Homo sapiens: one gene and its partner. The protein of the gene in region 1 interacts with the protein of each later gene in a pairwise test. Each region holds a gene or a part of one and is shown on either strand. Other genes may lie near its edges.

Region 1 (3,825 bases):
GCCTGTAATCCCAGCTACTTGGGAGGCTGAGGCAGGAGAATGGCTTGAACCCAGGAGGCAGAGGTTGCAGTGAGCCAAGATCGCACCACTGCACTCCAGCCTGGGCAACAAGAGCAAAACTCTGTCTCAAAATAAAAAAATAACAATGCTATGCAGCCATCATCACTATCTAATTCCAGACCATTTCATTACACCAAAAGGAAATGATGTATTCATTAAATAGTTGATAGACTTTTAAAGCTTAGTTCAATAATTTTTAAGTAGTGCATAATTCCGATATTTGGAGATTGATAGGTAATAGAAGACAGGTTTATTAAATCCTTCATAGAATTCCATAATAATAAAAATTATATCCATAAAACTGAAATCCAAATATTAAATTGTGTTTTCGATTTTGAAAAGGTAAAAAAAGGCAAATGCTAGTGTATACAGTGTTCTAGTTGGAAATGATTAGAATGTGATATTTAAAAGGTGACACGTTAATACTTTAATTGGCAGTTATACTTCTAGGATATGATTTTTGCTGATCATATCTAGGCTAAGATTTTATGTCATACAAACATAAGTGTTTACAGTCAAATCTTGCAACTCTTTATTGAGCAGACAGACATTCAGATCATTTTATGTTGCGTAATGCAGTGAATGTGTCAGAAAACCTCCAGTCTTGTTTTCTTTTAAAGCACAACGTGGAAGTTCTTGGAATACTTTCCGATGATGTAGAGACTGATACCGTAGCCCCAGGTGAAAACCTCAAAATCAGACTGAAAGGAATTGAAGAAGAGGAGATTCTTCCAGGGTTTATACTTTGTGATCCTAATAATCTTTGTCATTCTGGACGCACATTTGATGCCCAGGTAAACAAATTATTGTTGTTGTCATAGTGGGTTTTAATGTCTAAATGAAATTAGAATATCAGTGCCTTTTGTCCTGATTATTTGTGACATGCCAGTTAACCCATCTTAGTGTAGAGAAGGGGAATGGAAATATTATAAGCCACTTATATATCATAACCACAATAGGCACCTCATACAAGGTCTTCAAGCTGGTACAAGTGCTTACTGGATAAGGAGTATTCTTTGTAAGTTCCTTTTTATGTTTGATCTCCTGATGATACATTCTACAGTATCTAATATTCACTTTGACCAGAGCACAGTTACTGTGGAAGTCATGGTTTATGTGCTCATTGACAGCACATAGCTTTCCAGACAAGAAATCACACAGGTTTCCCTGTTATTAACAATCTAACCTCCCTGGGAGAATGACAGAGTAAGTGACTGGTGTGAATAACAGAATTTTTTAAAGTTCTTTTCTAAGGTATGACAACTAATCAAGTTAGATTTTGATGCCAGATGTAAGGTTGTTTACTTTACTGGACCTTGGATATTGAGAAATGGATAAAGCTGGATAAGTTTACATCTAGGTAGCTTCTGAGCGGTAAAAATTAGCTTAGTTCCTTGGGGAATATAAGGAAAGTCTTCCCAGATAAGAAAGTTGGCCTGCTGTCTTTTGTTTTGTTTGGAGATGGGGTCTTGCTCTGTCACCCAGGCTGGAGTGCAGTGGCGCGATCTTGGCTCACTGCAACCTCCACCTCCGGGATTCAAGCGATTGTCCTGCCTCAGCCTCCTGAGTAGCTGGGATTTAGGCGCCCACCACCACGCCTGGCTGATTGTTTTGTATTTTTAGTAGAGACAGGGTTTCACCATGTTGTCCAGGCTGGTCCTGAACTCCTGGCCTCAGGTGATCCCCCCGGCCCCCCTGCCGCCTCGGCCTCCCAAAGTGCTGAGATTACAGGCGTGAACCACTGCGCCCAGCCAGCCTGCCGTATTTTGAAAGTTGACCAGGGACTTGCCAAGAAGATAAATACAGGATAAGATACTGAAATTCATGCTTTGAGTTCAAGCAGCCTGACCCATCCTGTGAACAAAATTAGTAAGACAAACCTATCACCTCTAACACAAAAATCACTTAAGTTGATGTCCTAGTGAGATGGTAACACTAATTCTTGGGATTTATATGGCGCTTGAGAACATTGAATTCTTATTTACCCTAAGGCTAAAGATAAGAATGTGTGTGTTTGTTTGACAGATAGTGATTATAGAGCACAAATCCATCATCTGCCCAGGCTATAATGCGGTGCTGCATATTCATACCTGTATTGAGGAGGTGGAAATAACAGTGAGTTTAAGATAATTGGTTTATTTCTGTTTTAATACTGTTTTATCTTCATAATTTCTAATCAGCAACAGTGATGCACTTTTATTTCTACACCTGTTCTTAAAGATTATTTTATTTGGCATTATTCTGATTTTCTCATACTCTTTTCTTGGTTAGGCCTTAATCTGCTTGGTAGACAAAAAATCAGGAGAAAAAAGTAAGACCCGACCCCGTTTTGTCAAACAAGATCAAGTATGCATTGCTCGCTTAAGGACAGCAGGAACCATCTGCCTTGAGACCTTTAAAGACTTCCCTCAGATGGGTCGTTTCACCTTAAGAGATGAGGGTAAGAGCTTTTAAACTGACGTCTAGTAGTATATCCAGGATACCTAGCTTTGGTCATCTTCATCATCTCAGTACAGTACACATTGCAACAGGTTCACAGAAAACTTCGATTCACATTCTTATTCGTATGAGTGTTTTATGAGTTGAATGTATTGAACAGAATTGACCACGTGCTTTAGTAGTAATGCCAAATCTAGTAATGCTCTACGTGAAGAATCTTAATTTTGATGTTTTGTGAGTAGTGGATTTGGAGGGCTATTTTGTTTACTAAGATATTTCTATGATGTAATCCTTTGTAATATGTCTAGCGATTAAAAGGAACATAGAGATTGATTTTTTTTTTTACACCTAATTTTTCAGAGGTCTAATCTTTGTGACCTTTTGTGTGCATCCATTTCTGCCTACCTCTGGGTGACGCAGAACAACTAACATTCCCATCTTGGGGTCATGAAGTTCTTTGGCATAAAAACAAAATGATTGTTATGAAACGTTTCCTTATGAGCTTTTAATATTCCTGTCCTTTTCCTTTCCCTTTCCCTTTCCCTTTCCTCTTCCCTTTCCTTTCCTTTTTTTGAGATGGAGTCTCGATCTGTCACCCAGGCTGGAGTGCAGTGGCACCATCTTGGCTCACTGCAAGCTCCACCTCCCAGGTTCACGCCATTCTCCTGCCTCAGCCTCCCGAGTAGCTGGGACTATAGGTGCTGCCACCATGCCTGGCTAATTTTTTGTATTTTTGTAGAGACGGGGTTTCACCACGTTAGCCAGGATGGTCTTGATCTCCTGACCTCGTGATCCGCCCGCCTTGGCCTCCCAAAGTGCTGGGATTACAGGCGTGAGCCACCGTGCCCGGCCCAGCTGTTAATATTTCTAACTTAGATAACCATTTTAAGACTATAGAAGACTTTACATAAAACTTTATAGTTCCATTGAAATACAGAATAGTCATTTCACATGTTCATTCCAATTCCATTTAGCAAAAACTACTTTGTATCTACAAAGTGTCAGGAACTGTGCTAAGCCCTGGTGATGAATACAGTTCCTGAACTTTACATTGGATGAAATTGTATAAAGACAGTGTTTATTTTACTTTAAAGGCCCAGAACTCTTCTGGTTGATAGTAAAACTGGTTATTGGGTTTATCTTATTAATATAACAAAATGATAGTTTTAGTTTACCACTCAGAACCTGATAAAATCAGGAAGACAGAAGAAAAGCAATTAATGTAGCAGGAATTCTTAACCCTAGAATTATTTTTTCCTAAAAGCTAACTTGGCTTTAAAAAAAAAAAAAAAAAAAAAAAAAAAAAAGCTAACTTGGCTTTTAGGT
Region 2 (2,815 bases), on another chromosome or scaffold:
TTTCTGTGCAGTGCCTTTCCTCAAAATTTCCCATCCCCATCAAGTTAATTTGGGAGAGAGCCAAGAATTCTTCGGGCACATAGGGGTGAGTCCCTCTACCCACCCTCAGTCCTCACCCCAAGTTGCCCCTGGCACAGAATTCCTTCGACAATCCTGAGTGGTTTTATCGGCATGTGGAAGCACACAGTCTGTGCTGTGAATACGAAGCAGTCGGCAAGGACAACCCGGTGGTGCTGTGTGGCTGGAAAGGTAGGGCTGCTTCTTAACTTGTGGCTTCTGGAGGAAACGCTGGGGTTCCTGAAGAGCTGGGACAGAAAGGGATAGGGGTCCTACAGGGGCAAGGTTGACTGCCGGCTGGAGAGACTCAGGGGTACCAGATCCTAGGCAAAACTGGGGTTTTGTGGCAGGAGACTGATAGGGCTTCCTTCCCAGGCTGTACCTGCACCTTCAAGGACCGCAGTAAACTTCGAGAGCACCTCCGCAGCCATACCCAGGAGAAAGTGGTAGCCTGCCCCACCTGTGGGGGCATGTTTGCCAACAATACCAAGTTCTTAGATCACATCCGTCGCCAGACCTCATTGGATCGTAAGTAGTCAGAGGAAGTGGGGTGGATGCAGGCTGTCCTGCTTGGAATGGGTTAGGGGCATGTTTCTAGTGGGGGTGGCCACTGAAGAGACCTGCCTTTTGGCTGCCTCTTCTTTTTGGGCTCAGGCACCTCCCATAGTCTCTTTGCTGATTCAGATTCGTAGGCATTGTTATTCAGTACTTACTGTACCTCGTATCAGTTACTTAGGGAATCCTCACAACAGCCCCATGAGGTAGGCTTCTTATCCCCCTTTTTGCAGATGAGGAAACTGAGGCTCAGAGAGGTTAAATCACTTACCTGAGATCACACAGCTAGTAAGTGGTGAAGCTGGAATTCTAACTCAGGTTCTCTAAGTCCCATGCTCTTTCCATGATACTGTGTCCATTCATAGCTCCCTAAGCTCTCCTTTTCTCCTTGGGTGGTTCCCTTCTGCCTGGGATGGTTCCCCTCTCCTTTCTGTGCCTCTCCACTATCACCTACAGCCCTCCTTTCTTCTGCCTGCCCCACCCCAGAGCAGCACTTCCAGTGTTCTCACTGTTCCAAGAGATTTGCCACAGAGCGGCTATTGCGGGACCACATGCGCAACCATGGTGAGTGGCCTGCGGCCCACAGCCTCCCTCCTGCCCTCCAAGGTTCCACAAGTTCTCACATCACAGCCTCCTCTCTGCTTCTCTCAGTGAATCACTATAAGTGCCCTCTGTGTGACATGACCTGCCCGCTGCCTTCCTCCCTCCGCAACCACATGCGCTTTCGTCACAGTGAGGACCGGCCCTTTAAATGTGACTGTTGTGACTACAGGTAAGGGGGACCAGGGACCAGAAAACAGCTCATGTTCCAGTGTTCCCCATGTCCTCCAATCCCTCCTGATTTCTCATGGCAGCTGCAAGAATCTTATTGACCTCCAGAAGCACCTGGATACCCACAGCGAGGAGCCAGCCTACAGGTGTGATTTTGAGAACTGCACCTTCAGTGCCCGATCCCTCTGCTCTATCAAGTCCCATTACCGCAAAGTACATGAAGTGAGTGGGGCTGGTGTTGGGAAGGACTAGTGGAAGTATGGGGGACCCTGGGGTGAAGAGCTGGTCTCATTTCTCCCTTCCTTCCCCATCAGGGAGACTCTGAGCCAAGGTACAAATGTCATGTGTGTGACAAATGCTTCACACGGGGCAACAACCTCACCGTGCACCTTCGCAAGAAGCACCAGTTCAAGTGGCCCTCAGGGCATCCCCGTTTTCGGTATGTCTCTCAACCCTCCTTCCCAGATTAACACACTTGTTTTTATACCTTTTCAACCAGTTTTAAAAACCTTAATTTGGGTCGGGCGCGGTGGCTCACGCCTGTAATCCCAGCACTTTGGGAGGCCAAGGTGGGCGGATCATGAGGTCAGGAGTTCGAGACCAGCCTGGCCAACATGGTGAAACCCCGTCTCTACTAAAAATACAAAAAGTAGCTGAGCATGGTGGCACATGCCTGTAGTCCCAGCTACTTGGGAGGCTGAGGTGGGAGAATCACTTGAACCCAGAAGGCGGAGGTTGTAGTGAGCTGAGATCATGCCACTGCACTCCAACCTGGGTGACAGAGCGAGACTCCATCTCAAAAATAAATAAATAAATAAATAAAACCTTAATTTGATGGTGGTTTTATGTCTGCCATTTCCATTTAGATTCAAAGAATCCTAAGAATAATGGTGGAGCAAAGCTTATTTTTCTGTTTTTTGAATCTTGTAAGGCATGGTGCCAAACCCAATAAATGGTGCCAAAAAGTCCTGCAGCTGGAACTAGAGCTAGAGTCTAAGGGTTCTGATCCTTAGCTCCAAGGCCTTCTCATAAATCCTTTGACACTTTCACCCTCCAACACAGTCAGTCAGTCTCTGTTTTTCTGGTTGGGTTTCTATATAAAACTTTCCATTTTGAGTAATGATCTTTCCCTCTTGCCTTTTCTTCTACATATTCCAATAAAGACCTTTTTTGTCTTCAACTCCTGTCACTTGGATTCCAGGACTTCTTCCATCCCTCATGTTTGTTCCTTACTTTGCCAGCCTCGGCCATTTCTGTATCCCCCTGCCTGGGTTTGCTGCCCTTTATGCTCCTACCTCACCAGGTACAAGGAACATGAAGATGGCTATATGCGGCTGCAGCTGGTTCGCTACGAGAGTGTAGAGCTGACACAGCAACTGCTGCGGCAACCACAAGAGGGATCGGGCCTGGGAACGTCGCTGAACGAGAGCAG

What was found.
Region 2: the proteins of GSPT1 (region 1) and HINFP interact in a two-hybrid assay, tested with the Homo sapiens proteins (one large-scale study listed by BioGRID).

The regions. Positions count from the first base shown.
Region 1 is NC_000016.10:11,874,436-11,878,260, reverse strand, and holds part of GSPT1 (eukaryotic peptide chain release factor GTP-binding subunit ERF3A), read left to right. Parts: intron 1-680; coding exon 681-854; intron 855-2,085; coding exon 2,086-2,175; intron 2,176-2,331; coding exon 2,332-2,500; intron 2,501-3,825. UniProt on the Homo sapiens protein: GTPase component of the eRF1-eRF3-GTP ternary complex, a ternary complex that mediates translation termination in response to the termination codons UAA, UAG and UGA.
Region 2 is NC_000011.10:119,131,398-119,134,212, forward strand, and holds part of HINFP (histone H4 transcription factor), read left to right. Parts: intron 1-137; coding exon 138-249; intron 250-432; coding exon 433-585; intron 586-845; exon of another isoform or gene 846-900; intron 901-1,098; coding exon 1,099-1,176; intron 1,177-1,263; coding exon 1,264-1,384; intron 1,385-1,466; coding exon 1,467-1,605; intron 1,606-1,697; coding exon 1,698-1,822; intron 1,823-2,546; coding exon of another isoform or gene 2,547-2,686; coding exon 2,687-2,815. UniProt on the Homo sapiens protein: Transcriptional repressor that binds to the consensus sequence 5'-CGGACGTT-3' and to the RB1 promoter. Transcriptional activator that promotes histone H4 gene transcription at the G1/S phase transition in conjunction with NPAT.